Regions from separate parts of the Homo sapiens genome. Here regions 1, 3, 4, 5 and 6 are each reported to be linked to region 2. Evidence: microRNA targets listed by miRTarBase, many of them from high-throughput screens and not tested one by one. Region 2 holds a microRNA gene; each other region holds the end of a gene's coding sequence.

Region 1 (5,232 bases), not on the chromosome of region 2:
TAAGGGGTTTGTGAGAAATGGAGAAATCCAGTCAGTCAATTCGTATCTTAAACTGTGACAGGGAGCTAGGAATGGTTGGCATCTGAGGATATGCAGAATTGACTTTAATATGGCGATGCCCTTCTCTGATCGCCACTCCTCTGATCGTCACAAATGCCCAGCCTCCCCCATGTGCACATCTCGTAAATCCCACTGGATGATAGATATTTGAATATGGAGGAAAGGGGGACTGAAAGCTCAGTCTCTGTGGGCTCTTCTCCAAGTGGCCCCATAAAGGGAGTGCTTATAAACGGAGGAGAGGCTTATAAACGGGGGCGAGGGGTGGTCAATGCCTGCTTTGTCTTTTCCAAGTGTCACACATTTTTACTGGCTGAGAGAGAAACTCCAGCCTCCAGGTGAGGTGCTGGGCCAGGTCCCTCGCCTCCTTGCAGGGGTAGTGTCAGGCTTCCCACTCATGATTTGCAAAGTAACATGGGGTCCCCAGCTGCCGCCGACAAAGCTGTTACACCTTCTCTATCATTTCCAGATACGATCCCCGCTTCAACACCTGGATACACCTGGCCAGCATGAACCAGAAGCGCACGCACTTCAGCCTGAGCGTGTTCAACGGGCTCGTGTACGCCGCGGGCGGCCGCAACGCAGAAGGAAGCCTGGCCTCGCTGGAGTGCTACGTGCCCTCCACCAATCAGTGGCAGCCGAAGACGCCCCTGGAGGTGGCGCGCTGCTGCCACGCTAGCGCGGTCGCCGACGGCCGCGTGCTGGTGACCGGAGGCTACATAGCCAACGCCTACTCGCGCTCTGTGTGCGCCTACGACCCGGCCAGCGACTCGTGGCAGGAGCTGCCGAACCTCAGCACACCCCGGGGCTGGCACTGCGCGGTCACGCTGAGCGACAGAGTGTACGTGATGGGCGGCAGCCAGCTGGGGCCGCGCGGGGAGCGCGTGGACGTGCTCACCGTGGAGTGCTACAGCCCCGCGACCGGCCAGTGGAGCTACGCGGCGCCGCTGCAGGTGGGAGTGAGCACTGCGGGCGTCTCGGCGCTGCATGGCCGCGCCTACCTGGTGGGGGGCTGGAACGAGGGCGAGAAGAAGTACAAGAAGTGCATCCAGTGCTTCAGCCCCGAGCTCAACGAGTGGACGGAGGACGACGAGCTACCCGAGGCCACTGTCGGCGTGTCCTGCTGCACCCTCTCGATGCCCAACAACGTGACTCGGGAATCCCGGGCCAGTTCGGTATCTTCTGTGCCAGTCAGTATCTGAGCCCAGGTAGATGCAGGGACGCAGGAAGAACACGTTATTTATTCGTAGAGCCACGTGGTTAACCTCTGAGTTCGCGAAAAGGAAAATATTTAACATTTACTACACTGATTGTATTGTAAAATATGTCGAGGCACATGTCCTGATGGCTTTAAATTCCTGGTATGGCATAATCTACCTCTTTTTTTTTTTTTTTTTTTTAGCAAAATACAGGGCAATGGCCAACAAAAGAAACAATTTATTTCAGCGGCCACTGGGTGGCAGACGGAATTCGTTATAGGCACTCTCCCAAGGCGGCATGTTTCCTAAATGTATAGCGGTTACACCCACATTTGAGATTTTTTCCTCTACACGTTAGTACACTTGAGGTTTATGTAAGTGATTTCATGTTCAAAAGTTTATTTTCCTCTCTCTCTTTTTTCTTTAGGAAGTTGAAGATATTCATATAGATTTTATTTATTTAAAAATGGAAATTGTCGATCTCCATAAAGACTTAAGATTTAATTCTGTATTTCAACGCAATTTTCCCCCCATATGTGATTGAGTAAAGGATTTTGAAAGATATCCCATGACAACGTAATAAAGCTTAAAACAAGATCTGACCGAAAAGGAATAGGGATTCCACCCAGGGACCCTAAATTTGATAACCTTTGTGTTAGCGGACATTCCTCTTCCTCCATGCCTCAGGCCCCAGTTTATTTTCTACCATAAAATCATGCTCTCAATGAAGTAATTGATATGAATCATTTAATTTATAGCATAAATTTAAGTCATTTGGTTGTTTCAACTAGAAGGATTTGCATTTTATCCCTTGTCCTCTATTAAAGAAGAATTTCACATACCCTGGGAGCCTTACCCTCACCCTAAAAACTACACCAACCTGGTTAAAGGCAACCTTGGCCCTAATGTACACCCCGCGAAGATCACCAAATAAAACTATGTCCCTAAGGACCATTAGCCTTAAGCTTAGAGAGCTTGAAGTTTACACAACCAATAACAATAATTTTATTTGCCCCAATCTTTTATATGATAAGAATGATAGAAACATTTGGAATTTGTAGATTTGGTAGTAACTGGATGAATGGGTTCTCCTGTTGATAAATGCCATTGTTTCCCATTTAATATGGATCCTCCTGATTTCTTAAGTAAAAATCAAGCACTCATCTCACGTATATAAAAATATATACTCATTCTGTCCTATTTTTATTAATCTCATCTGCTCCAAATGAGCTTTGGATTTATAATCAAAGTGTACCCACTTGATAGCACTTTTCCTATATGTTTGCCAAGTTTTGGGGAAAGGGAATGACTGTAGTAAATGATACATATTTTCCTTTTTTATAATTTATCACTTTATTCTTTGACAGTTTATTTGTTTTGGAGAGGAAGTGGCCTATCAATTATGGGTTATGTGCAATTGGATTTTGAAAAATAAAACAAGCTATTTAGGAATTGAACATGAGATATATGGAAATATAATTTGGTTTTTGTTAATCTCATCCTCTCCACCTTGTGTAGATAGGTTATTGCTAGTTATGATATTTATTTCTAAAATATGTTATTTGAACTGTGAAAAGTGGTTCATATAGTACACTTTGTGGAACAATTTTATATCATTACCCCGATGAAAAGTTCAATCTCTGGATATTTAATGATAACACTCAGGTAAGGGCTACAAACGCTGTAAATTAAGAACAAGATATTATTAATGTAAAAGCGCTGGGCTGTTTCCTTATCCCACACAAAGAATCTTTTACCTTGGTATATGTGGATATGGTATATTACCTTGGTGTATGTATATGTGTGTATACGCACACACTCATACAACTGAGAAGCCTATAGTATATGGTTAATTTTTGGAGAAAAGGGTGTTTTATTGTGGGTTACAGATCATAAGTGAGTGAATAGATGTAATTCCTTGATGCACACCAATAGATGTGTTCCCATTGACATCTTAGAAGTATTGTATGAAGAGGAGGACCTAGGGCTTGAAATGAAATGAGAATCAATCAATTGCAACATTACATGATGGAATAATGAGAAGAGATACTGAAACTAGAGGATTTTTCATCTATCAAAGCTTGATAAATTAGGTTGTGCAAAAACTTGGCAGTGGCTTTCTAGAGATGAAACTGGAGACATGTTAGTGCTGGATAAATCATTTAAAATTACCATTTAATTTATTTTCTACATTGTTTATCTGAAGACTCAGAAAATCCACATATTTGAGCTTACCAGACTCTTGGGTGCATTGCTGTTCTATCTTCTGCTTCAACAGTTAGGAAAATAAAGACCAATATGAATTTGGAATGTCAGAATTTCTGACATAACACATTGGCGAGGAGTATGGAATGTAAGGGTCGGTGAAAGTTTCATATCCTGGAACATCTTGCATTGCCAATTGAAAGACATAAAAGTATGCAGAATCAAAATAATATGTGTCCACTTTCATGTGTAAGTGAAACATATTCTTTACACCAACTATTGAAGCAGTTGCTCCTAGAAACCTAGTTTCTCCAGATTTCCCAAGTGGAAAATATTTAGTATGTTTTAAGCTTACATTCAATTACTCCAGAGTCTTAGGACCCAACCATATACTTCCTTTTATTTTTTATTAAAGAAAATGACTTGTTATTTTTGTAACGGCTGAGTCCTGTGATCAAATAAAAGCATCAGTTCAATATATCAGGGAAATTGCATGTTACCCAGCAACTGAAATAATAAAATTCAAGCTCTCTTTTTCTAAATGGGCCAGAGACCTGATGAGAAAGTCTCCAGGAAGCCAAACTTTAACATACTTTGTCCATTTTTAGTTAGGTTCTTGGTGCCAAGTTGTCATCCCTGATGCATTAGTTGCTTTCAGTGCATTGAATGAATTTTATTTTTACTTCCTATGTTGTAAGAATGGTTTTGAATAGAAGGTCAGTGATGGTACAGATTCGTATAATTTTAAAACATGATTAGATGGTAGTGAAGTGTTATGAGTGAGGAGGTATAATTGATGTCATGAGGAAGTGAGTACTGAATGGTTCTATGATTTAAGGTAAAGCAGCAGTTGTAGTAAGTGTATTTTACAAATACACATGTAAATAGAGGTTTACCTGGAAATATGTACGTTCTAAAAGGTCAATTTTTTAATTTTATTTTTTTGCTGGTTATCCTGGCCAAGTGTCTTCAGAACTCATCCAAGTTACGAGACGAAATAAACTAAAATCACCTCATTAATTTTTTTCCCTTAGTTACAACCAAATGAATTTATGTAATCTCTGAATGAACTACATCCCTATTCCAGCCGCTGATGAATATGTTCTCCAGCACAAGGCAGCATTAAAAGGAAATACTTTTCAGTATTTCTTTTCATGCCAAAAAACCTACAGAATAATTTTCCAAACAGTCCTTTATTCGTAATTATAAGAATTAAACAATCTAAAATATTAAAGATTTACCCTCCAGCACATTCACTGGGTAAAGACCATTTAATTTGCCCTCTCAGGGAATTTGAAATAAATTATTTGTCCTGGATATTCTTTAAAAACTTTTTATTTATTCAGCAAATTTTGGCAAAAAAATTTCTTTCTTTGCTTAAAACATTCTGGTACTATATAAGGAACAACAAACTAAAATGTATGTAGTGTTATTTTGTAATCTCATCACTATCAATAAAGCTGCATTCAATAAGACCTTAGTCAATGACTAAATATGGACAGTTTTGAAATATCCTTTCTCTGATGATTGGGGTGTTTGTTTTTTTCTCTACTTAGTTTTCGTGATGATTCACCTAGACAAAACAACAGCAAATGACAAGTAATTGAAAAAATGTTTCAACAGCTTGAAGACTAGTGAAAGAAAAAGGTATAAAACATCAGTAGAGACTTGCTTTGTAACTCAAAGAAAAGCCCAACTCTGGTCTAGCTCAGCCCCGACTATTTAGAAGTCGTAGGTTAAGTGTGGTTTCTCTTCCTGTTTCCACCCTGAC
Region 2 (5,232 bases):
TCCGCACCAGTGGATCCACAGAGTGATGGCACGAAGGGGCATTGCACACACATACAGAGATTTTTCCTTCACAATGTGTCTATAATGGGATCCTTGCAAAGCGAAGGAACCCTGACTGCTGATCAAAGGCAGAAAGACAGGAGGAAGAACAGTTTGCTCTTCAAGGCGATGAGCCTGAAGGCGTGCACCGGCTGGGCTGTGGCTGGGGACAGCCGCCTATTAAATGCATTTTCATTTTAATCAAGGTGAGAGCAGCCTGTAGTTAGCAGGAATCGCTCTCAGTAGTATAGTTAGATTATAACTGGTGGACCTCTGCAATGGAGCCGCTGACCCATTTTAATGAAATGATTTTGCAATTAGATTCGATGGACTAATGTGTTCTTTCCAGCATTTTTCCCCCTGCTGTTTTTGTTATTGCCCTGGTTTGTAATAACAAGGGGGTCGGAATGTGATATTTTATACGAGTGGGAGCCAGAAATGTTAATAACGGCGTATGTACATAACCGAAAAAGTTCGTTCCCCAGTCAGAGCCAGCCCGAAATGCCATCTCCATCACTTCATATTTCATTACCGAAACTACTCAGGGTTTCTCAGAGCCATTTGTTATGCCTAATGCTCATAACTACCCCAAAGTATTTTTAACTTTTCCAGAGCTTTAAAAGTCAATTTCAATCTCAGTGCATATTTGTCACTGCCAGAAATACTTAGTAATAGAGGACCGACTGCAATAGGCTGTTGCTTCTTCTCTTTGGGGTGAGTTCAGACAGAAGAGATCCCAGAGGATTTGAAGAAGGGCCATAAAACTCAACCTCGGCTGAAACCAGCCTTGGAAGAGCTGATGTCATCTGGCATCTTGCCTGCTCCTGCCCCTGGAGCCCTCCTCCCCTTTCGCGGGCAGCTCAGAACAACGACACTTGGTACGTGATCACAGACAAGCTTTAATAGACGGGGGGGTGGGGGTAGGAGGTGGAAATTACAGCAACACAATTTTATTATACATCCCTGTCCTACAGCCACTTCCCAGGAGGAACACTTGTCACATTTGGATGACCAGGGGTGTGGGACAGGTAGGGAGCCAAGCTCCCATGTTTGAATGGACTTGGCTGGGTTGGGATCAGAGGCCAGCACCAGGTCCAGGATGGCTGCTGCCATCAACGGTATGCATTTTGTATCATCCTTTGGGCAGCCAGTTTGCTGACTGGGAGTCATAAATTCATTGTTATCTGATCATCATGGACTTGCTAACTCATGTTTCCAGAGCTCTCCTCCCCTATTCCCAATATCCCTAAGATGAGTGGAATAAAAGAAAGGAGGAAAGAAGCAGAAAGAGGAATTGGGGGGAGCGTAAGTCCTGTCAGGCCTCATCAGCTTGAAAAGACAGTGATGTGAATAAGCAAAGGGTCATAAGTGATGAATGACTAAGGAGAACACTGCCAGGCACACAGACATCCACTCATGGGCAAGGCTGGGGGACCAGCTGCCAGTGGCTGGAAGATGCCAACTGTTTTACTAGGAGTTTGGTCACCAGTTGGGCAGGGAGCCGTCCTAGTAAGCTATCCCCTTTGGAGTCTATTATGAGTGCAGCCATCTGCCTGAAAACAGAGGGAAATACCCATGGTCTGAGGCTGGCACTGCCTCATCACAGCCTGTGGCTGCGGGGCCAGTAAAGCACTGATGGAAGGGCACCATTATGGACCCACTCCCAGAGGCCTGGTCCCTGCCATGTTAGGGGCAGTGCCGAGGGCCTCAGAATGCCCCTCTCTGTAAGGTGGGAAAGGGAACTTCTCCAGGCTCGAGGATTTGCTCTGTGTTAAATGGGATCTTTGTATGTCCATGCTGGAGAGGAACAGCCATTTGAATAATGCTTTCTCTCTTACTCAAGTTCTTTCTACTAACAGATGAAAGTCTGAAAGGGAGAGTTTAAGCAAATTTCAAGTCCCTATCAAATCACAGTTTTTAAATGTTCTAATTCAAGGCAATGGGGTTGTCCACAGCTGGGAAGGTGGGTATTACAGCAGTACAGTGCAGCCATTCTGGAATCAGATGACCCTGGGTAAGTTAGCTAACCTCTCTGAGCCTCAATATCCTCATCTGTAAAGTGGGACTTTAGATTTTGTGAACATTAAACAAGGTAATGATGTGAAAACAGTTCACTGCCTGGCCTATAGCAAGCACTCAATGTATGTTAAAAAACTACTAAGCAATGGTTGGGCTCCTGGTTCTGAGGGGTAACCTCAGATAGACGAGGTAATAAGAGTCACACCTCATGATGGGGGCCCAGGGCTCAGCTTCTAGTTCTGAGCTAGGCTAAAGTTCCCACCTTAGCTCTCTCTTGCAGAATAGGACAAAGACTCCAGGACAGGAATGAACAACACAGTCTTCTGGTTACACTGGGTCTAGGATTTATCAAGGAACAAGCAAAATAAGAGGTACCAAGATCCCTCTCTTTATTATCAGAGATAGCAGGTTTCCACGTCCACACACACTCCCCTCCCCTGAAACAGAATTAGCACCAGGTGAGGAGCCCAGCACCTCCACGTTAACTGTGCTTTGCAGGTCAAGGAAACAGACTGGACTTTAGGTTTCATGGGGTTCAGGGACTGTGTTTTCATAAAGTATGGGAATGAGGTTCAGAAGGAACCTTGGGTTAAACCCAAAGTCTCAGACTCACATGAGTTTCACCCATTCTCATGCTGACGTTCATTTCAAATAAAGTGAATACCAATAAAGGTGGTGGTGGGAGGGGTCGGGGGTCACAAGCAGTAGGAATTCCCCTTTGGGTTAGCTGCCACTTGGAAAAATGACCTTGGGTTGGGACTCTCCCATGAAACCATGGGGCGTATGCCTTGGGTATACTTGTTCCCTTCCAGTGGAAGAAGAGACACAGTAGTTTCTGAGCTTGAACCTAGTTATTACTCCTTGTCTGACATCCAGACTAGATTTGGGGGAGGGTGACTCCATTTTGGGAAAGAGATGTGGATACAGATCTCTTTCCCCAGGGTGCTTCTCCAGACCCATTTCCCTCTGTATCTGCATCCTTTGAGACTCCTACCCTCCTGCCTTTGGTGAGTTGAGACTGGGAGAGGTGGGTCTGGCAGGTGGTGGGCTGCGGTGCTCCAGAGCAGAGGAGAGGTGTCCAGCGGTGGTGGCGGCGGTGGCGGGCCATGCTGCAGGAGAGCACGGTGCTTTCCGCGGTGCTTGACAGAACCATGTTCCGTTTCCATCGTTCCACCACATGGTTAGATCAAGCACAAAGGAAAGCCCCGCAGCGACTGGTCAGAGTCAAGGTCAGGAAGCAGCGTCAGAGAGAGGACAGGAGCGCTCAGAGGAAGCAGCGTGGAGAAGCGGAAGCCGGAGCAGGCCCCCACTGAGCGTGATTAGTATCAGGAGTGGGGTTCCACTGGAACACTTCCGAAGATTGCAGCCCTGCTGCCCTTGTGCCCCACCCCAGGGAGACACAGTAGGAAGGGAGAAGAACGGGAGGGAAATCACTGGATGCCCATACTCGGGAGCTTCAGGACAGCATGGTTCCTTCCCAAGGAAAGAAAGAACACTCAGACATCTGTGATCCTATCACATGCCTGAATTGAGCCTCTAAACTCCATTCAGTCACACCAGTTGGTCTGACAAGACATTAAACTTAGAAAAGCATCTTCTGCATGCTTTGCAACATAGGCCCAATCCCCCCAACAGCTGAGTGGTTCCATCACAGTCATTCCTCTAGCCCCTTAAGTCAAGAGACAATCCACAGTTCCCAGTGGTCTAGCAAACCTTCAATGCTGTTCTTTAGGAAAAAGCCCCCTTTGACATTCCACAATTCAGGAGTCTCCTTTATATCCTTTGAGGTCAGCAGGAATGCTCTGGCTGATAGACACTCATCCCAGATCATTTGAGGTTTAATAGAGGAGCAGTGGGGTGTCAAAAGAAAATATATCTCTCTAGCCAGAGAGAAAGACAGGAAAACAAATGGGGCCGTAGGGTTTGGACTGAGGAACCTGCAATCATAGTTGTTGTTTGAGAACACTGACTTTCACAGAGATGGTGGCCAGTGCGCCTCCTGATGAAGGGCCTCTTTGAGACTAAGAGAAGGAAGGAAAGGGAAGCCAAGTGATGAGTCTGAGGGGAAGACACTGAATTCTGGGGTCCTTCTTGATTTCTTGTTCTCTTCCTTAGCTGGAAATTATGGGAGCGAACAGGATGAACCAATAACCACTGTCAGGATGCCAAAGGCCCAGGTGAGGGTACCCAGTTTTTATATTCCTCTCTGTGATAGATCAGGGTCAGTTTCCATGAACCTGCTGACTTGGGACTTCCTCCCACTTGGCATTAGGCTGGAGATGTGCATCTTGAAGAAACTGGAGCTAAGGCTAAGTGACTGAGACCCTCCCTGCCTGACCTCTGACATGAGAACCAGTATCAACATTCTTCCACTATGTGTTTTTGGGACTGGGCATATCCTCTAGATGGTCTCAGCATCTCAACGGTGCATAGGTTGTCTGCCATGTTGGACCAGTTAGGAAGAGCCAGCCCACAGCTCTGGGTCTGTCTGGCCTCTCCTCCTTCCTAAGGTCTCTCATCACACGCACTAGAGTCAGCCACTAGAATCTGGACTCCACTCTGCTTTGACACCTATGCAGGGCTCTGTGAACACTGTGGTTCTGGGACTTCAAATGTGAGTTTGATTAGGACCCTGGTACAAGAGCAGGGGAAATCCATCCTGTTCGTGCAAACCGCCACCCTCACCAAGCCTTAAAATCTAATTTTCTTTCTCTTTGGTTTCTTCCTACAAAAAGAAATGGAGGGATTTGTAGGTAAATTATCAAGAGTCTTCACAGTATGTCAGAAGTCCTGGGTTTCAGATCTTGCCCTAAAAATAATACTCAATACCTTAGATAAGATTTTTCTGCTGTGTGGACCTCAATTTATCCATCTCTAGAATAAACTGGATGACCTCTAAGGTTTCTAAAAGTTCTGTAATTCCTTGAGAGCTATCTTGCTGTTCGCCGTCTTTGGACACTTTGCGTCACCACCCTCTGTACTTTTCAGCAAGAGAGTTTCTTCTCACACAAAGCGGGGAGGCATGAAGGAAGACAGACAGCACCCTGCAACTGCCAAGTGCTCCCAGGGATGGGCTTGGGGTCCCAGGCAGCCAGACGGAGCCTTTTCAGGAGGACTTAATCTGATGGTCAGATTACCCCAGCCGGCAGCATCCAACCCTAAACTGATCTTGCT
Region 3 (5,232 bases), not on the chromosome of region 2:
TAGTCAGTGCCAAGGAATAAGGAAAGCAAAAATAAAGTATGATGAGGAACTGCGCTTGGTGATCTGGGTCACTTCAGCACTTATTCCCTGTGTTAAATGTGTGATTAGGACAATTCCCCCGCCCTCTCCAAATAATGGCAATAAAGAGTTCTTAAGGTCTCATGCAGATATCTTCTTGACCTTGATTTGGAGGACTGAGTCCCCTTCAGTCAGGCAAATTTTACCTAAATGCAGGGTTTCTATGTGGATGCCATCCCAAGTGAGGATGTGAGGTGTCTGTGAGAAGCAGCAGGCTACCATTTCTCTCTTCCTACTCTTTTAGAATACTTTAGGAAATAGTTACTCCTCAGACCACTGTAAGGGGTTATCCCTCTGAGTAGTGTGACCCTTGTTTCAGAGAGCTAGAAGTGAAGAGATGGTGAGATTAGGTACACTTAGTCTTGCAAACCAGGAAAACCAGAAGGCAAGACATTAAGAGAGAAAAAGAAGCCCTCTATTTTGTCTTTAGTACTTAAGGAATATGGATAGATCAGTTGGAAAGTTGGCAATTCAAGACTAAAACAGTATACCAACCAATGAACATTTCATTGTAGGGTCTTCCCATGGACTTGTAGCAGATTTGTCTTCCCTGCCAGCCTCTACCTTCCCAATGGTTAGACATGAAAAAGACATGGGTACTTAAGGATTGACACAAAGACAGAGATAAGCACCGTAGAGCTGCCACAAAGCATAGATTTTAAAAAATACTTTGAAGCCTCAGAAGGTAGGAAACAGCAACAGCAAACTGCTCTTGTGTGTGTGAGAGAGGGAGACACACACACACACACACACACACACACACGCAGACATCAGGTCCCACATTAGCCTCCAATGACCTAGTATTTTATTTTTAGTGCCTAGGCAAGGTCTGAGAAACAAATACATTGGACAAAACTTGTTGGTCTTCTTCATCCAGAAATTAAGGGACTCAGCTCAGGAACCTCTCCTGGAGTTGTGGCTCTCCCCATTGGTTGACATTAGATATTGAATTCATGTCATTTCCTAGACAACTGTGGTGAGGGATGGAGTTGGGGGGCTGGAGAGGAAGATAATAGCACAAATTCCAGTATTAGGCTGGATTCTTCTGAAGGTGCCTGGCGGTTGAGAATTTAGCTATGGGACCCAGTGTTTCTTTTCTGAAGGATCCCAGTAGTCTCAACCAAGAAGCAGGACGTAGGTGGGAGAGAATGCTGTAGATTTGCTCCTTGCCATAAATTCTAGGGCAGTGAGTGGGGAGCTCAGGTTTTCTGCTTCAGAGAAGTCTGGATGAGTGTCCCAAGGGGTTATAGCACCATGAGGAGGCTCAGCCTTCTGCAGTTGCCATATAACTGTGATTCCTTCATGAGAATGATCAATCCCCACAGTGAGGGGCCCAGATGTGCAACTGTAAACAGGGTCCCAGGCTCCAGAGGGAAAGCCGAGGCTTCAATACTACCTCACTAGACGGGAACACACTTTCTGGAGGAAAGCAATTGGAGACCTGGCCTAAATGCAGCAGTCAGCTGAGAGTAGAGGGTGGTGGATCCCAGGAAGAGAAATAAAAAGTCATAGCATGAGGCCTCCAGAATCAACCTGCTGAGGATCCAAATAAAATTCATGGTGGTATCCATGGTTACCAGAGAGCCAAGAATCCCTTTGGGGTCGGAGGCAGTTGGAATGAAAGAAGGGGTTCTCCCCTCTCCTTTTTCTCAAGTAGCCAGTAACATCCATGGCAGAAGGCACTGGCTGGGCAGCACCAGAAAATAGAGTGAAGCGCTCAACCATCAGATTAAGATGGCATTAAAAGTCTGAGCCTTGCCATGGAACTGGAGCTTAGGATAGGGTTTAGAAGAGGCCTAGATCCCAAGCAGGCCCATCCAGTCTTCTCTTCCTTCTAAGTTAGAACAGCCAGCTCGGGGGCCTCCTCATTCTGCACAGCAGAGACCTTAAGGCAGTGATTTCAGCACCATCCTTGGACACACAGCCTCTTCCCACCACAGAATTGCATATGTTACAGCTGAGTTGGTTAGGGATCTTCACAGCTCATGGAATTAGCAGCAATAGCAATAATAGTCTCCATCATACAGAACCCTGTCATCCATGGGAGCTTACCACGTGGATGCAGAAGCTTTTGTGAGGGGCAGCCCGGACCATCTTTTGGACTTAATATACCGATATGAAGATTCAGATGCATCTACTCCTCGGTTGGGTGGAAGAGTGATCCAGGTTGGTATGCCTATAGATTCTGATAAAGTCTTGTGCTACTTAGGAATCTGAAGAGCAAACACTTAGGCCGGTGCTCATCACATATCCTTGACCTGCAGAGTCCTGAAGCTTCAGCCTACTAGGCAGCTCAGCCTAGAAGCTGGTCCCGCGGGGCTTTCAGAAATGGCAGGAAGTAGACTTGCCCATTCCTGACAAGCAAGATTCCATAGTCCTTCAGGCTCCATCTTAATTGATCCCAGATCTTCTGCCCCCAATGTATTGTACATCTAATCAAAAGCTTCTTTCTAGCTGGCTCCTTGGGTTTCAGCTACATTTCTTAGATGATCCCGAAGGTCTAGATAACAAGGGGGCGTAGCTGAATGGAGGTTAACATTTCCTGCTGGACTGTAAACTTAAGGGCCCAGGTCTTGTGTGTGTGTGTGTGTGTGTGTGTGTGTGTGTGTGTGTGTGTGTGTCTGTTTTAACCTAATGATTTGTATATAGTGAGTACTCAGTAAGTACTTGTCAAATGAAAGAACAGGGATTGCCAGACCTTCAAGGCAATGGGAAAGGAGCAAATCTGCAAAGGTAGGATCTCTTTGGAAGGCAGGTATTGGCCACCAAGTCAAACTCCTTGAGTCTTATATTCTGATTGGGATGATCTCACATGGATGTTCATCTCTTATATGTGAATACTCATTTGTGAAAAATAGTAAGAGCCAGCTAGGATATTTGGATTCAGTCAGGCACCATCAGAATAGTGCAGTGAAAGGCCAAACTGGCCACAAGACAGAGGAATGTTTTCAGTTTTCTGGTTTTCCTCTGGTCCATGATAAAGCTCGGAGTAACTCTTCTATCAAGATGGGGCTATACCTTCTCATGACAGAGGCTGGCAATTGAGCTACCCAGCAGAACGTGTGCTCTCAAAAGGGAAGTCAAGGGAACTGGGTTCCTCTTCTCCCTCTACTTCTGAGCCAATGCTTCATGTCTCATATAAGCCCCATGGATGCCAAAGATAGTGGCATGGCAGGTGTCATGCCAATTGCATGGCATCAGATTCTCCAAAGAAAACCCACTTGGAAAAGCCAAACTAGCCCCTGGAAAAGCAACCCAAGCATCTCGTGGACATGTGAGGAAATGGAAAAACGGAAAAAGAAAAAAAAAAGGGAAACAAAAAAATAAATAGGCAAATGGGAGAAAAAAATGAAAACAAAATAAAAACCAAAAATAAAAAAGTAGGGTTTATTGACTCTTATGCATTGTTAAATTAGAGGGTAGAAAGACAGAGCTGGTAGTCTTTCCCTGAAGGCTGTAAGGTTATTTTTGTGGTTTGGTGACTTCTCAGGTTGGCAGCCGTCTTGTTGATGTCCCCTATGTCATCCAGAGGGCAGGAGCGGGCAGCTCTCTACCTTGGCAACTGGTTCCTCTCTCTCCAGCTTCATCTTTTCCATTGTTTTTTGTTTGTTTGCTTGTTTTTGTTTTTCATTTTTACCTTTTACAGATTGATTTAAACATTTTTTAAACCACATGCTTCTTTTTCTGGGCTCCAGCCAGATCTCTGGGGGAGGAGTTGTTGGCAGTGGTGATGGAATTGGGAAGGGTCTGTGAGAAAATCTGAGGAGCTTCCTGCCTCCCCCAGATCTCCCTCACAAGACTGTCTCTCTCAGGGTTGCTTGTGAGAATCATTTAGGAACTGCTGCAGTGTTTTGATGTTTTCTGAACCCCTCCCCAGAAAGCCCAGGAGTTTGTAATTGAAACAAGAAGTCAAGGGAAAGACCCAGAATCATCTTTTCCCCAAAGTCATTAGAGGAGGCCAGTAAATGTGTTTAGGGGGCACAAGTTCCCAAACGCCACCCCACCATTCCTTCCTAGGAAGTTCTCAAAGGTACAGCACCAAGAACCTGTCCCTCCTCTTTCATCTCCTCCTCCCTCCTGTTCTCCTCCTGGGGCTGGAGAGCCAGTGCTCTGAAAGAGGAGAGGGGAGAGGAGGAGCTAAGATAGCTGATGCCAGCGTTCTGCTGTCCGGGGGTGACAGTGATTGCCGAACCCTTAAAGTGTTGCCTGAAGGTTGGGGTCCAGGATGGTTTCTCGATCTGGAGACTCAATGTAGTTGGCAGCTTCTTGAAGTTTCAGCAGCATGGCCATCTAAAGGGGGGCAAAAAGATGGATTTATGAGAGTTGGGACTCTGGGTCCTGCCCACAGAAGGGAAACAACAACAACAAAATCCCAACACTTTGGGAGGCCAAGGTGGAAGGATAGCTTGAAGCCAGGAGTTTGCAATCAGCTTTGAAAACAAAGAGAGACCCTGACTCTACCAAAAAATAAAAATAAAACAATAAAAAACTGGCCAGGCGTGGTGGCACACAACTACAGTCCCAGCTACTCAGGATGCCAAAGCCCAAGTGGGAGGATGACTCGAGCCTATGAGCCTAGGAGTTTGAGGCAGCAGTGAGCTTTGATATCATCACTGCATTCCAGCCTGGATGAAAGAGCAAGACTCTGTCTCCAAAAAAAAAAAAAAAAAAATCTAGATCATGGGTCTGATCCTTGGTTTCTCAGTGATGAAGAGCTCAGAGTTTAGAGTGGTTTGTGAAAAGGCAATGAGGATTTCTTCAATGATAACTGTGACACATGTGTATGTACAACAATTACTTGGGAGTATGCCTGCTATACAAGGGACAAGGTACCATTTATGGAGGAATACCAAAAAAGAATGAGACCACTTCTGCCTGCAGGGTGCTTGCACTCCAGGAGAGGAGGGAAGGCCTGAACATACCAACGAATACTGGGAGGAATGTGAGAAATGCTATAAAATAACAATTTCCCCTTCCAATAGAGTATAAACCAGCAGCTAGACACTGTATTATTATGAACCTATTTCTCTCCAGCTTACCAACCGTGTTGCTTCATGTCAAGTCTAAATACCTCTATGTACTCACTTCCTTCTCTTTACTTACTTTTTTCTCTGGACACGTCAAGATTGGTACTTCCATTTCAGCTAAGTAAGC
Region 4 (5,232 bases), not on the chromosome of region 2:
ACATCTGTCCTCAGGATTCGGGTAATGGTGAGGTGGGAACTGAGTTCTAATGGGAACCCTGGCAGAGGGGTGCTGGGGTTGGGGCTGGGGCTTGGGAACAAACTGAGGGTGGTTGGTCAGAATCTAGGACTATAGCACTGTGTTTGGGTAGTGTGGGAGACTGGAGAATAGAAGAGATGGAGGCTGCAAATGGGGATAGAATGAGGAGTCGCATCTAGGCGGCAGTGAGTTAGGAACAGTGTCAGAGGACTGGTCTGTCATAATTCCAGCGCCCCACCCATGTACATGGGTTTCTTTTCCCCCACAGTATTTGGAGGTGGGGTTGGTGGGTGACTCCATGTAACTTTCATACTCCATCCCCCTGAAGTGGAAGCGGCAGGAATACCACTGCTCCTCGGCCCATCACTCCCCCAGAGGCAGGGACGTGAACACATAGTCGTCATTCTTGCTGCCCCTGCCTGTGCTCCCTTCCATGACCGCTAGTGGGAGCCAAGGGAGATAAGGCCCAGCCCTTAGGAGTTAGGGCTGAGAGGGGAGCCCACGCTCTCATACCCAGCAAGCTGCAGAGTGATCAGACAGCCCATTCCCTAGGATCGCAAGTCCTACAGCTGGAAACAGCGGCTCTTCATCATCAACTTCATCTCCTTCTTCTCGGCGCTGGCTGTCTACTTTCGGCACAACATGTATTGTGAGGCTGGAGGTGAGGCCAGGATAGGATCCACAGGCGGTCATGAGTGGCTGCGGGGCAGCAATGATGTTTTTGATAATGGGCAATGGTCTTGGGGACTGGCTGCCATTGTGTTCTCTGTGGCAGACCAATGGTGGTGTGATTTATCAAGAGGCCTCTGAGCGGGTAGCTGGAAGTTCACCATGTCCTGTTCCTTGTGTCCTCACAACAGTGTACACCATCTTTGCCATCCTGGAGTACACTGTTGTCTTAACCAACATGGCGTTCCACATGACGGCCTGGTGGGACTTCGGGAACAAGGAGCTGCTCATAACCTCTCAGCCTGAGGAAAAGCGATTCTGAACCCTTCAGTCCTGCTTGGGAGGACGCAGCCCACTGCCCAGAAACAAGAAACACGATACCATTCTGGCCTTCCCCACCCCACATCCTCTCTTGGCCTTACTGAAGATGGGGGAAGGGTAAGAAGGAAGGGTGTAGGCCAAGGCTCACCCCAGTGCTGCTGGCTTCTCCTCTCCACCCCTCATATGGGCGTGGGGTCCTCAAACATCACCTTTACCTGAGAGGCCCCAAGAAGCTGAGCTGGCAGAGAGCTCCACCATTTGGTGCTAAAAAAAAAAACGTCCTGAGGTTCATGACCACCATCCAGTTTCTGGCCTTTACACAGTCACCTTTCACTGAGGTCAGGAGCCCCTGAGCAGTGGCTGCTCCCTGACAACCACAGCCATTTCTCTGCACGGGGGTCATTCATAGGACTAATGTATTTCATGATCTACTGTGCACATCCAGGCCTGTGGCCACAGTCCCCTGCTAAAGTTGCTCAGGTGTTCTAGTCCTGACTTCACCTTTTTGATTTGGTGTGTGCCCTAGGGTATGTACCCTTCCCCATCTGAGCCTCGGTGTGTCCATGTGTCTGGCGGGGGATGGGTGGACTGTATGATTTCCAAGGACTCTACCAGTCAGTGGTTCTGATGTCATCGGGTGGAGGTGGTGTTCTATACCTAAAGGATGACCTGCTCCAGAAACAGCACCAGCACAGCATGTATTTTCTTCTCTTCTGAAAGTTCTGGCTTGTAGACCCCTCCCCTCCTTTGCAAAGGTATGGGATAGAGGGGTCAGATGCAGATCTCTACTGTAAAATGGGCTCCCTGGTATCTCCTGTCTTCCCTACTGCTCCAAACCCTAAATTTTGGTTGTACATTTTATTTGAAAGGAAAATAAATTTTTTTTTTGGGCCAACAGTTGCCTAGGCTTGCTAGTCTTGGGGCTCATCTTGTTTGATAGGAACTGGGAGAGAAACAGGCTCAAGAATGGGGAGGGAGTAAGTCCACGGCAGGGTATGATTCCTAGCAGAACCCCCCAGTCCCCCTTAGGTCTGGAGTCTCCTAAAGCTGGTCTAAGCCTTTATTTTGGTGAGCAGGAGTGAGTGAGCTATCTGTAATGATTCTAGGACTGCAAGCTAGGGTACCTGGAAGTCTTCAGTTGAGACAGAGACCTGGGTTCAAATTCCAACTCTTGTTGTTAAAGCTGTCCTCTTGGGGATGTGAGGTACAGCTGTCACATGCATGACTGTGGGAGCATCTGCCTTTAGACTAATGGCTCTGAACCTCTCCCTTTCTGAGCCCTAAGATCAAGAAGTCTTTCCTCAGGTTTTGTGTCTGAGTCCACTACAGCATCTGTGACTGGGCCCCAGAGCAAGACTGCCCCCTCCAAGGGAGCCTAGAGCTTTGTTAGGGAAATTGAGGGGTGAGGGGACCACAATGAAGCCTATTGTCTACTAGAAGAAACAAAAGGCTCCCAGTCTCTGGGGAGCCCTAGCCCATGCCCACCCGCTAATGCCCAGCACACAGGGAGGAGCCGGGGCCACTGGAGACAGGAGGTTTTATTGATGCTGATGGGGGTAGGAAAGGTCCCCAGAAGCATGGGGGCTGAGTCAGTCAGCAAATGCGTAAGGCCTAGGCACAGAGGAGCAGGTTAGGGCACATTCACCTTCTCAGGATTCTGTGGCTCCCTCATTGGAGAAGGGAGAGAGCATCTTGGGGGCGCAATTCCAAGAGCAGCGAGGGCAGAGGTTAGAGATGGCTGAGAGCCCCTAACCTGAGGCGGCACCACAATAGGCAGCAACAACTGTGTGGAAAGCTGGATGAACTGGTCAGTAGCGGAAAATGGGAGGGGGCACTGGGTTGGCCTCTTGGGGAGGGGTCCAACCTTGGCTTGGATGAGCTCATGAGAATACCCAGTGTTCCCAAGCAGAGGGGGGCAGAGCCCAAAGCCCCTTTCTCTGCAGGCCTCCTTAAGGAGAAAAAGGCACTCAGAGAAAAAGGCATTCAGGGAACCCCCTGGAAAGGGGTGCCAGAATTAGTCCTTAAGGCACAGCTGAGGCGGACAAGGCACCAAGGCACAACTGGTGGGGGGAGGGCAGGGGCAGCCTCCAAGCCAAGTGCCAGGGTCACAAGAGGATGCAGGACCGCCCACGCTTGATCGGCGTGGGGTTGAGCACAGCCCGGACAGCCTCGGCGAACACTTCCTTGACACCATCCTGTTGCAGGGCTGAGCATTCGAGGTAGCGCACAGCGTGGATCTGCTTGGCCAGTGCCTGGCCCTGCTGCGGTGTGATGGGCGCCTGGCCCTGCTCCTTGAGGCGCCGTAGGGTGTCAGGCTGGGCTCTCAGGTCCTTCTTGGTGCCCACCAGCAGGATGGGCACATCAGGGCAGTGGTGGCACACCTCTGGATGCCACTTGTGCCGCACGTTCTCATAGGACGGCGGACTGGCAATGGAGAAACAGATGACGAAAACGTTGGTCTGAGGGTAGGAGAGTGTACGGAGGCGGTCATACTCCTCCTGGCCCGCAGTGTCCCACAGGTTCAGGTTCACTGTGCGCCCGTCAACTGCGCTCTGCGCGCTGTAATTGTCGAACACGGTGGGGATGTACTCTTTGGGGAAAGCGTTAGTTGTGTAGCAGATGAGCAGGCACGTCTTGCCCACAGCCCCATCACCCACCACCACGCACTTGATGCTCTGCATCGTGGGTGCAGTTGCTGTAGTGGAGGCAGTGCCTCCTCTCTCTTCTGGACCCCTCTGGCTGCAGTGACCTGTGGACAGATGAAAGGGGACATTCTTGGTTAGGGAGGCCTCTGCCTATTGGGAAGAAAAGATGGGGGCACACAAAGGGAAACCGGCTCCTGTTCCCTTAACCTGACACTATCCCAAAGTCCCATCAAGACGGTCATCAGAAAGACACACAATGAAAGGCCCTGAGGCCAAGCAAAGAGGCAGTATAATGTGGTAGAAAGCACATAAACTCTGGCGCCAGACAAACTAAGGTCAAATCCTGATTTTGCTATTTCCTAGCTGTGTAACCCTGAAAAAATTGCTTAACCTCTGTATGCCTAAGTTTTCTTACCAGTAAAATGAGGATAAAATAATATCTACCTCACTGGGTCATTGTGAGCATTATATAATACATGTAAAGCATTTAAAACAGTGCCTCGTCCACAAGTATTAGCTATTTTTTTTTTTTTTTTTTTGAGACAGAGTCTCACTCTGTCACCCAGGCTGGAGTGCAGTGGCGTCATCTCGGCTTACTGCAAGCTCCGCCTCCTGGGTTCACGCCATTCTGCCTCAGCCTCTCGAGTAGCTGGGACTACAGGCACCCACCACCACGCCCGGCTAATTTTTTGTATTTTTAGTAGAGATGGGGTTTCACCGTGTTGGCCAGGATGGTCTCGATCTCCTGACCTCGTGATCCGCCCGCCTTGGCCTCCTAAAGTGCTGGGATTACAGGCGTGAGCCACTGCGCCTGGCCAGTATTAGCTATTTTTTTTTTCCAGGCTATACAGACACAAAAGGAGAGTGCACAAATTTAGGGATCTACTAGATCCTCTACTAAATATGGACCCTTTCCACCAGGAGACTGGAAAGTGTTTTGGCACAGGACAGCTGTCCCAGGTCACTCTGTGATGCAGCCATAAGTAGAACCTCTCTCAACTCAGGGCCCACCCTGCCCTCTCCAAACCTGGTATCTTGGCTACTGAGTACAAACCCAAAGGCACAGTTAAGAAACCTGCTGAGTAAGGGGCTCAATTCTTTAGAGAGCTGCCCTATCCCAATCCAGGGTATTCTGGCAATGGGGAAATTTTTTTTTTTTTTTTTTTTTGAGATGGAGTCTCACTCTGTCGTCCAGGCTGGAGTGCAGTGGCGTGATCTCAGCTCACTGCAACCTCCGCCTCCTGGGTTCAAGTGTCTCCTGCCTCAGCCTCCCGAGTGGCTGGGACTACAGGCAGGTGCCACTGCATCCGGCTAATTTTTATATTTTTAGTAGAGATGGAGTTTCGCCGTGTTAGCCATGCTGGTCTCAAGCTCCTGACCTCAGGTGATCTACCTGCCTCAGCCTTCCAAAGTGCTGGGATTACAGGCGTGAACCACCACACCTGGCCACCCCATCATTCTTGTAAGTACTGAAAACCCTATCTGGCCATGTACACTCAGATTGCCAATTCAATGCAGGGGAATACTGGAGATTCAGTTGGACCTGGGATTTGGACTG
Region 5 (5,084 bases), not on the chromosome of region 2:
ACACTCACTAGGTTCCGTTTCACTAATTTTGGTAAAAGTCTGTAACTACTATAAAATATTATTAGATTCTTAATTGTAATCGCAGTAAGCCTTGCAACCTCTTATAGTTACAGAATTGGGGTAATGTGGATATTAGTATCTAGGAGGTAGTTCCTTGCCAAAGAACCTGTATAAAATAATAGGTACCTTGTGCAGATCATTTATTTGGGGTAAAAAGGAAAAGGGGAGGTGCTTAATTGAAGAACCAGTAAGAAAGTTTGTCCTGAGGCCTGTGTGCCCATTCAGTGCCAGGAAGCTGGGCATGAGCCAGTTGTTTCTTCTCCCTCCTAAGGACCAAATGAGTGAAAGTTGGTTGAAATTGCATCAGGAATTCTTATTTATACGCAAGAAATACTTCCTGCCAGTGAGAGTGGTCACTGAACAAGGTCCCTAGAACAGGTGTTAGACCCTTGTGAGTGTCAAGCAGCCCCTGTGTGCAGGGCTGTGTCGTGGCAGCCACCAACCTCTCAGTCTGCCCTCCAGCCTGCAGGTAGATGGTGATGAGGGGCAGTGCTCCCACTAAGGCACTGTCTCAGTAGCAGGCAGGCTTCTCCATCTCACCATGTAAGGACCAGAGGCATGCATGCTCCTGGGATGCTCTATCAATATGGCCCATCTCAGTCATGCCTGAATTGGCAGAAATGTTCAGCGAGGGATGCTAGGGAACTTCCTCTCTGTCTCCTTATTCTGAATTGTCATGCCTATTGCAAATCTCTGTGCAGAATTCACATCTTTACTCACATTCCTTAAAATCTTCTAGGACCACAAAAGGCTCTTGGAGTCTCAGCTTGGTTAAAATCGCCTCTCTTGTAGTGACGAACAAACATAGGCTTGCCTGAGTAGTCTGCTACAGGAGCTCTGTGAGCCGCTGCCTTAAGAACGCGGGTCATCACTAGTGATCTTTTCAGAACACATACTGACACTTCCCTGCGTAGGATCACGCTTGCCTCCTTGGGATTTACTTTTGCTCTGAGAGCAGTGAAAGAAAAGAGACTTGATCATTTCTGGTGCCTTAGAAAGCTGCTACATTCGGGAGGATGAGAAGCTTTTGTTTCAGGAACAAGCCAACCTGTACAAGTCTCTGTATTTTGTGAGACTAGTCCCAATCTTGTGAGCAAGAGTCAGGAAATCAGGCCCAAGGGTATAAACTGACCTTCCCTTTTTTTTTTTTTTTTTTTTTTTTGAGATGATAGAGTCTCACTCTGTCCCTCAGGCTAGAATGTGTTGGCGTGATCTCCACTCACTGCAACCTCCACCTCCTAGGTTCAAGTGATTCTAGTGCCTCAGCCTCCCAAGTAGCTGGGGTTTCAGGCATGCTACCATGCCCAGCTAAATTTTGTATTTTTAGTAGAGACAGGATTTCACCATGTTGGCCAGGCTGGTCTCAAACTCCTGACCTCAGGTGATCACCCCCCTCAGCCTCCTAAAGTGCTGGGATTACAGGTGTGAGCCACTGCGCCCAGCCTAAACTGACTTTTTTTTTTTTGAGATGGAGTCTTGCTCCATCGCCCAGGCTGGAGTGCAGTGGTGCGATCTCGGCTCACTGCAGCCTCCACCTCCCCGGTTCAAGCGATTCTCTCCTGCCTCAGCCTCCCGAGTAGCTGGGATTACAGGTGAGCGCCACCATGCCCGGCTAATTTTTGTATTTTTTAGTAGCGATGGGGTTTCACCATGTTGGCCAGGCTGGTCTCAAACTCCTGACCTAGTGATCCACCCACCTCAGCCTCCCAAAGTTCTGGGATTACAGGCGTGAGCCACCGCGCCCAGCCTAAACTGACTTTTTAATAGTGATTGAGCAGTCCATGTTTACAAGTAAGATGAGCCTTTTAAAAATATATACATATACATATAAATACATACACACACACACAGAGACATTTTTATAGTCAGTATTTTCTAGAACTGTGTCATACTTGTCTACACCTAAATAAGCTGGGTGACCATTCTGTGGCCATGAGCGAGTTCAGACAGAAAAATTCCACAGTGCCCAGCCTCTCCCTGCTCACTCTGCATGGGCACAGACCTGTTGATAATGCACCTGCCTACCAGCCTCTTCCTGAGAAGAGTAAGGCCATTCTGTTTTGATTTTGGTAGATAATCTTGTGCCGTGGAAATCAGAAGGGCAAAACGAAGCAGTCATGATGAGAAGCACACCTCAGAAATCAGGACATCCCCCCTATCAGGTGGTTTTGGAGAAAACAAGGAAGGCGGAAGAATGGAGTGCAATTGTGTGAGCAGAAAGGGGGGCAGGAATCCCGGGTGCTCCACTGCTTAAACCACAGGACCTGGTTAACTCCTCACCAAGCTTCCCACGACCCTGGTTGCCAATGGGCGCGGGAGACATTGTATACACATCATGCTATTTAAAATACGTTCAAACTATAGTGTAAATGCTAATTAACCATATTGGTATATAACCGGAATTTTATATTAAAAGGGGCCTCCTTTTTAAATATATGCCGTGTAAAAAATGTACTTATAGGAACATCTCTTTGAATTGTATTTCTTGTATATTACATACTTAGAGAGAGACTCTTTTAGCCAGGCAAAGTCTTTTTTGGCTGTGGCTGGAATAAATCATTTATTACTTGGGAGTCCCATTTTGGACACTAATAATAAAATCATGGCAATGCATTTTTGAGGTTTTTATATATTTTTTTGTTTCCTTGTGGTTATAGGGGACAGGAGGAACTCTTTAACTTCTTTTAAATGCAGTCATTTCACCCTTAAAAGGAGAGGAAGGGGATTGGGCCACAGACTTATCCATGGACTCGTCTGCTCTGAGATCTGGAAAACGACCTAACTTTGGTCTAAATCTGTGCTCCTCAAGGCATTGTTTGATAGAAATGTAGGATTTCAGGATCTACTCGAGCCCTACTGAGACGGAATCCGGATTCTCACAAGATCCCAGGTGATTTGTTTGCATATTAAAGATGGAGACCAGTGAGTACACTGGTTTGTGGAAGGAAAAAAAGAGAAAAGAGAGAGAAGCTCTGCCCTAAATACTAATTAGAATGGATTTACACCAAAATGACCAGAGAAACTGGGAACCAGAGAAACAAGGAAACTAAAATGTATTGAATGTCTGCTCTGTGTCAGGTAATTTGCCAGGCATTTTCATGTATGCCTTTATTTAACCCTCAAAATCAACTTGCAGGTTAGGTTAAACAATTGCCCAAGTTCAAAAGCTGGAGCTGGCACCTGTGCCTGACTCCAAAGCCCGTGTGCTTCCCATTAAGGCACACTCCCTGCCCAGAGCCAGCGCAGCTCAGCTGCTCTCGGGTCGGCGTGGAGGAGGGACAGGATACAGAAGGGATATGCAAGGCTAACTCCAAAACTAAACTCCAAGACTAAACTAAAGCGTGTGTTTGTAAAGAGGGTAAAAATGAAATTTGGAAGCAAACTTGCCTAATTTCCAGGTACTCCTCCTCGTGGAATAAAAATTGGTCTGTTATGCGGCTTGACAGCGGCAGGCAATTTGGTAGGGATTACAGCAGGGAGTTACTGAAGGGTCCTGAGTGTAATCTGCGCTGGAGATGTTGTCGTTGGCAATGTCTTGGAGGACGTCTGCAAGAACCTTTCTGACCTCGGGCAGCACAGCCTGGTACTCCGCACCACCTCTTTCTAGGGGCACAGCTTCTGCGGTATCGTCTTCCAGGTTGAAAATCAGAGGAAACTTATGCTGCAGCTCAGGCCCCGTGCTCCCATCACACGCCCTGGCTCCACCTAGAGAGGGAATGACAACAAATGCCTCGCTAACCCTGACAGTTGCCCTGTGTTGTAAAGACGAGAGCTGCGAGTGATTCTACATTAATTCAAACATACCAGATAACCAAATGTTCCAATGATGGCTCTCTCTGTCAAAGAAATATTACCTTGAGAATCTATTTGCTCCTTCCAGTGATGATCCTGTGGTCCAAAATGTTTTGCTTTTTTCATTTCTGTTTTTGTTTTTTGAGGCAGGGTCTGGCTTCGTTGCCCAGGCTGGAATGCAGTAGCGTGATCCTAGCTCACTGCAGCTTCAGCCTTTTTGGGCTCAAGTGATCCTCCCACTTCAGCCTCCCAAGTAGATGGGGCTACAGGCATGCACCACCACGCCCAACTTTTTTTTTTTTTTTCCAGAGACAGGGTCCCGCTATGTTCCTCAAGCTGGTCTCAAACTCCTGGCCTCAAGCAATCCTCCTGTCCCAGCCTCCCAAAATGCTGGGATTATCAGCAGGAACCACTGCAGCCACACTAAAATGATTTGGAAGTTCTCCTTGAACTCGCCTTCAGGGCCAGTAGAACATTCATTCAAGTATCTTTATTGACACAAAATCAGGATATAATTATTTTTTCAAGTTGGAGTCTCGCTCTGTCACCCAGGCTGGAGTGCAATGGCACAATCTTCAGCTCACTGCAACCTCTGCCTCCCAGGTTCAAGCAATTCTCCTGCCTCAGCCTCCTGAGTAGCTGGGATCACAGGCACCTGCCACCACGCTCGGCTAATTTTTGTATTTTTAGTAGAGATGGCGTTTCACCATATTGGCCAGGCTGGTCTGTTGGCCAGGCTGGTCTCGAACTCCTAACCTCATGATCTGCCCACTTCGGCCTCCCAAAGTGCTGGGATTACAGGCGTGAGCCACCACACCAGCCAGGATATAATTTTTTAAAGTATCTTTAACCTCTGCCCTTTAGGAGTAAATTTGATTTTTTTGAAAATCGATTTCTTGACTACCAATTGGTGAATCAAGTAGAAAGGCAGGTGAGTCATTTCACTTTGGGTTGAAGATGACAGTCTTACGTGGATTCGAATCTGGCTGTGAAAGCCATCCAGAAGAGGAAGGACAAAAATGTTTGGAATGATAGCAGCTTCCTTGGCTCTTTATGATTCCGATGACTTTTTTTTTTTTTTTTTGGCTTTGCTATAGAAAAAGCAGTTAAGGGTCTGATGGAAATAAATATGACATAATTAAATAAACAAAGGGAATTAAAGCAAAAGATAGCCCTCAAAATTACAAGAGTTCCTAAACACTGACTTTGCTTCTGAGCTTAGCAGCAGCCAA
Region 6 (5,212 bases), not on the chromosome of region 2:
TCAAGACCAGCCTGGCCAACATAGTGAAACCCCATCTCTACTAAAAATACAAAAAATTAGCTGGTTGTGGTGGCGCCCACCTGTACTCCCAGCTACTCAGAAGGCTGAGGCAGAAGAATCACTTGAACCCGGGAGGCGGAGGTTGCAATGAGCTGAGATCGCGCCAGTGCACTCCAGCCTGGGCAACAGAGCGAGACTCCGTCTCAAAAAAAAAAGAGTATATGTATCTAATAATGTCCTTTAAATTGTCAGTAATGCTGTTTCTGTGACAGCTTGGCAGCATGGGTAGGATCTACTGGTGGGTTACTGAGGTCTTTTCAGCAACATCGGTTACTTTGAGGTTAAGGATTCTTGTCAGTTTTGCTTACCTACTATATCAAGTGCCTGTAACAGTAGCTTGCATAAGGAGGGGCTCAGTAAATATTTGTAGGCTTAATGCTTTGGGCTTTGTTGAAATTCAGTTCCTGCCTCAAATGATGTTGTGCTAGAGGGTTTGCAGTTCTAACATTAGTCCTTTTCTCCTGCATAGCGTCACACTGCTCAGCTCCGCGAAGAGTTGCTGAAACTTCCCTGCCCTGAAGGCTTGGATCCTGACACTGACGATGCCCCAGAGGTGTGCAGAGCCACAACAGGTGCTGAGGAGACTCTAATGCATGATCAGGTTAAACCCAGCAGCAGCAAAGAACTCCCCAGTGACTTCCAGTTATGAGCTGCATTGATGTGGACTTCATAGACACAAAGGCTTCGAAGCACAAGCCAAATATGTCAATATTTGTATGTAAGAAACTAATTATGTAATAGGTAATGAAACTGAAACTATACTATGCCCTTAAGGAGATCCAGTTTAATTCAAGGTGATCTTTTATTTACCTGTACAGGAGTGTAAACTTTTTTGTGCTTTTATTTTTCAATTGTGAGAACCACTGATTGGTATGTTCAACAAATTTGTGTATACAAAGAAATGGATAAATCACTGCTATATAAGGGAAACTACCTTAGGAAAGAATGTTTACTGAATGTTTATTTTATTTTATTTTTTTTTTACTATAGAGTGAGGGGTTGTTAACAAAGAATATATATTGGTCATTCTTACAACTACTATTTAAAGTCAGCAACTTTTCACTGAATTTGATAGATTTTATGTTTGGCCATATCTTCATGCTCACATTTGATTTCTGAAGACCTCCTACATACACTTCAATAAAAGTTAAATGGACATACTCCCTCTTTTTTGATTTACTGGTACATTTTTAAAATAATAAATCTGCCATAAAATGCATTATATCTGGAGACTTGCACTTGTATGGATGAATTTATTACATTCAACATATTTAATTTTATGCCTTCTAATTCTAAGATGCAGAAAAAAATAAATGAACATGATTTTATTCTATGCCAACATTTGGGCCTCTGAATGTATCTGTTATTTGAATTTAAGTATTTGAAAAGGAATGGTCAATTTGAAAGTCATTCTAAACTGATTTTTTTTTTCTAAAGGGCTCCTTTTTTCCTGGACTATGTGGTTTTATGACTAAAGTCACATGTATGTATTAAACATTGAGGCTCTGTAGAGGAGAGAGGATGTACCTCTCTGGTGCTGTTACAGTACATTCTGTACCTGCCATACAGGCTCATTTTCATGCAAATTCTTCCTAGAGCCAAATAAATAAAGACTTAGGTGAATTAGTATGTCTTGTTTCTAAACCCCTTTGCCATGGTGTGAAATGCTATTTCTATAAAGAATTGAACACTTTCAAGACTTAAGCATGGGAAAACAAAGCATGTTTTTCCAAGACCAGTTGCCGCAGGGGAAAGGCTAAGGTGATTCTTTGACAGTATTTTTATAAAATAAAAGTGGCGGCTGTGCGCGGTGGCTCACGCCTGTAATCCCAGCACTTTGGGAGGCCAAGGCAGGCGGGTCTCCTGATGTCAGGAGTTCGAGACAAGCCTGGCCAATGCGATGAAATCATGTCTCTATAAAAATACAAAAATTAGCCAGGCATGGTGGTAGGTGCCTGTAATCCCAGCTACTCAGGAGGCTGAGGCAGGAACTGGAGCTGACGCCTGAATCTGGAGCTGACCAGGAGAAGCCGTATTCTGAAAGGCGAGTTGCTCTCTGATGAAAAAGGGGATCTTGGGGAAATGATACTCTCTTATGTACAAAGTATAAAGCTCCTTCAGCATGGAAAAAGGAGAAACGAATAGTATTTGGACAGGAAATCAAAGATTCTAAAACACATAGTGTTAGGTCTGGTGGGTAGTGAGCTACACCGAAAATGACAAAATAGTGGTAGTTTACAAGAAGAAAAAAATTATGTCACCCACAGACATGCCAGCTAAAATCTAAGTATAAAATTATCAGCAATAATAAAGGACAGTCATTAATCCTTTAGGCTATTTTTTGTTGTTTTTGTTTGTTTTTGGACTGTGAGTGCTGGATGATAAAAGCTGTATCAAATGTATTGTTTGTCTTCCATGTAAAATGAAAGTAACAATACCAGTACTATAAGGTCCAGTTCATATTTTTTAAAAACCAAAGTCTAAACACCTAAATTGGAACCAATTACATTAAAACATTCCATTTGAGATCCAGACTTTATGTCAACAAACATTTGAGCACTCATTTTTTACTAGTTCCAAGTTCCTGCACTTGAGGAGTGAATGACAGACATGAAAACATGTCAGTGCCATCTGGTAAGGTCTCTGGTAGAGTTATTTACAGGGTAATATTGGGAGCACAGAGGAGAATCCTTATCTCAGGCAAAACGTTGGGTGGGCACTGAGGTGATAATGGTCTGGAAAAGCTTTCTAAGTGCAGACTAATTCTTGAAGGATGAGGATAAAGAAGTTAGCCAGGCAGAAACAAGATAATCCAGACACAGGAGAGCAAAAGGAGAGCTCAGGTTGATGGCACCATATTGGATGTTACTGGATTTTTAACAGGCAAAGTGAGGATAGTCAAAAGGGATGGGAGGCAGTGGTTTTGGAAAGAGAGGAGGGGTCAGTTCATCCCAGGCCTTTGCTTGCCCTGTTAAGGAACTTTGACTTCCTGTAGGTAAAGGAGAGCTCACAAGTAGCTCTAAGGAAGTAACCTGATTAGTCTATTTCAGGAAGATCATTCTGCAACCTGTTGAGAAGCGAGGAGATCAGTTAAAAGCCTGCTCACATCCAAGCAATAGGTCATAAACTAGGGCACATAAACTGTGGAGATTAAGAGACAATTGACAGGACTTTGGGAAATACATATATTTGTTAGGAGAATAACTTTAGCATGTTTTCAGGCTAGGGAGCCAGGGGAGAAGTCCTTGGGGAAGGATGGAGCAAAGCCTAACAGACATAAATGACCTGGGTCCAAGAGCACATGCGGAGAACTTGAAGAGATGTGAAAATCAGTAAAGTGAATTGGTCTATTTGTGAAACTTTTAACTATATAAAGTTTTTATCTTAATGAACAGTAAAAAAACAAAAAGTAAAACTGCTTAAATACTTTCCTAGCATTAAGACAAAAATCTCCAAAGTCAGACAAATGTAAAATGTACTGTAGGCTGGGCATGATGGCCCACACCTGTAATCCCAGCACTTTGGGAGGCTGAGGCGGAATGATTGCTTGAACTCAGGAGTTTGAGACCAGCCTGGGCAACATGGCAAAACCCCGTCTCTACAAAAAATAGCAAAATTAGCTGGGCATGGTGGCACATGCCTGTGGTCCCAGCTACTCGGGAGGCTGAGGTGGGAGGATTGCTTGAGCCCAGGACATGGAGGCTGTAGTGAGCCTAGATCACGTGACTGCACTCCACTGTGGGCAACAGCAAGACCGTGTCTTAAAAAGAAAATTAATGGATGTTTTTAACCCATCTCTTACTGTTGGACAGTTTGGAATTGCTTTTGTCTCTGCTTTTCTGATTATAACTAATGCTGTGATGAGCATGGTCTTATCTTTATTTTCTTATGATAAATCCTAGAAGTAGAATTCCTAGGTCAAAGGTTTTGATATATAATGACCGCTTTCCTGAGAGGTACTGATTCACACTTGGAAAATCTTTTAGTGTTGTCATGCGTTGGCCAGCATTGGAGATTATATAATTTTTTGATCTGATATTTTATTATCATCAAACATGTTTTAATGTGCATTGAACATTGTTTATATTACCCATTTGAATTTCTACTTTTGTCAGTTACCAGTTTATACCTTTTCCCTATTTTGTGTATTTTCTTAGAGTCTTTTAGTATGTATCAGCTACTTATAGTAGAATATTAGTTTTTGTCAAACTTCTGTGTATTTGTCCAGATGGCCTTTTAATTTTTGTTTAATTTTTCTCATAGAAGTTTTAAATTGTGGGGCCGGCCGGGTGCAATGGCTCACTCCTGTAATCCCAGCACTTTGGGAGGCTGAGGTGGGTGGATCATGAGGTCAAGAGATCGATACCATCCTGGCCAACATGGTGAAACCCCATCTCTACTAAAAACACAAAAATTAGCTGGGCGTGGTGGCAGGCGCCTGTAGTCCCAGCTACTTGGGAGGCTGAGGCAGGAGATTTGCTTGAACCCAGGAGGCAGAGGTTGCAGTGAGCCCAGATCGCACCACTGCACTCCAGCCTGGTGACAGAGCGAGACTCCGTCTCAAAAAAAAAAAATTTAAATCGTGAAGTCATCTATTGATCTGTTCCTTTCTGATTTTAATTGCATTTTATTCCTTTGAAGTTATTCCCTATGCAAAGGCAAAAAAAAGGCTATATATTTTCTAACTGAGATTGATTTTTGGTATTGTTACAGGCTTCGCTGCAACTGAATTGCAACAGGCTTGAGCTGCTTCCCATCTCGCACCCTGCAGAGGCAGGTATGGTGGTGACAAGCCAGAGTCCACATGTGGATGGAAGATACAAGCCATGTTGAAAGGAAGCTCCATCCTGCTTTCTCTTTCCTCTTCAAACTCTGCCCAGTTTCTAGCAGCCATCCAAGCCTCCTTTCTCTCAGCTTCTAGCCTCCTGATGCTTCAAGCTCTAAAGGGGCTGACGTGAACCCTGTGAGCCTATACATTTCCTGTATAGAAGAGGCATTCTCTGGCCTTCTTTCTCCCTTAGTTCCTGGATGTGATCTCGTAGTGCTCCCATGAGCTCCACCAAAAGTCTGCTTTCCATTGCTTCCTTCATGTGTGTCCCTCTTCAGGTTGCACTAGCTGTTTTCCTGTGCAGGAAGAGACTGCAGCCCACCA

The links. Region 2 holds the annotated microRNA hsa-miR-218-5p (UUGUGCUUGAUCUAACCAUGU, at 3,234-3,254, opposite strand). A microRNA usually pairs through its seed, bases 2 to 8, with sites in the 3' UTR of a target mRNA and lowers its output. Matches are read on the target gene's strand: a 7mer-m8 pairs with bases 2 to 8, a 7mer-A1 pairs with bases 2 to 7 and ends in A, and an 8mer does both.
Region 1: miRTarBase lists KLHL31 as a target of hsa-miR-218-5p. Seed matches in the 3' UTR shown: 7mer-A1 at 4,570-4,576.
Region 3: the mRNA of NAV1 is a reported target of hsa-miR-218-5p. Seed matches in the 3' UTR shown: 7mer-A1 at 2,275-2,281.
Region 4: the mRNA of PGAP2 is a reported target of hsa-miR-218-5p. The part of its 3' UTR that is shown has no 7-base or 8-base seed match.
Region 5: miRTarBase lists ARSG as a target of hsa-miR-218-5p. Seed matches in the 3' UTR shown: 7mer-m8 at 3,263-3,269.
Region 6: miRTarBase lists BIRC6 as a target of hsa-miR-218-5p. Seed matches in the 3' UTR shown: 8mer at 748-755.

The regions. Positions count from the first base shown.
Region 1 is chr6:53,647,625-53,652,856 of GRCh38, reverse strand. KLHL31 (kelch like family member 31) reads left to right here. Exons shown (of 3, transcript NM_001003760.5): 3 at 527-4,941. The coding sequence ends at 1,259. Among named protein-coding and RNA genes, the nearest start is that of KLHL31, 16 kb to the left of the region's middle. RefSeq lists enhancers at 751-970, 1,001-1,060 and a silencer at 1,432-1,726.
Region 2 is chr5:168,764,978-168,770,209 of GRCh38, forward strand. MIR218-2 (microRNA 218-2) reads right to left here and starts at 3,278; the gene lies at 3,169-3,278. All of the region lies in intron 14 of SLIT3 (slit guidance ligand 3), which reads right to left.
Region 3 is chr1:201,818,973-201,824,204 of GRCh38, reverse strand. NAV1 (neuron navigator 1) reads right to left here. Exons shown (of 34, transcript NM_001389617.1): 34 at 1-4,368. The coding sequence ends at 4,273. The region is part of intron 1 of IPO9-AS1 (IPO9 antisense RNA 1); the gene reads left to right. Among named protein-coding and RNA genes, the nearest start is that of IPO9, 7.6 kb to the left of the region's middle.
Region 4 is chr11:3,824,429-3,829,660 of GRCh38, forward strand. PGAP2 (post-GPI attachment to proteins 2) reads left to right here. Exons shown (of 7, transcript NM_014489.4): 6 at 592-700; 7 at 900-1,943. The coding sequence ends at 1,030. It overlaps RHOG (ras homolog family member G), which reads right to left. Exons shown (of 2, transcript NM_001665.4): 2 at 2,550-3,778. The coding sequence starts at 3,710. The coding sequence ends at 3,135. Among named protein-coding and RNA genes, the nearest start is that of RHOG, 14 kb to the right of the region's middle.
Region 5 is chr17:68,418,870-68,423,953 of GRCh38, reverse strand. It overlaps ARSG (arylsulfatase G), which reads right to left. Exons shown (of 12, transcript NM_001267727.2): 12 at 3,140-3,765. The coding sequence ends at 3,491. WIPI1 (WD repeat domain, phosphoinositide interacting 1) reads left to right here. Exons shown (of 13, transcript NM_017983.7): 13 at 2,134-2,673. The coding sequence ends at 2,181. It also overlaps a transcript of PRKAR1A not described here. Among named protein-coding and RNA genes, the nearest start is that of MIR635, 3.1 kb to the left of the region's middle.
Region 6 is chr2:32,617,196-32,622,407 of GRCh38, forward strand. BIRC6 (baculoviral IAP repeat containing 6) reads left to right here. Exons shown (of 74, transcript NM_016252.4): 74 at 530-1,683. The coding sequence ends at 709. Among named protein-coding and RNA genes, the nearest start is that of TTC27, 8.2 kb to the right of the region's middle.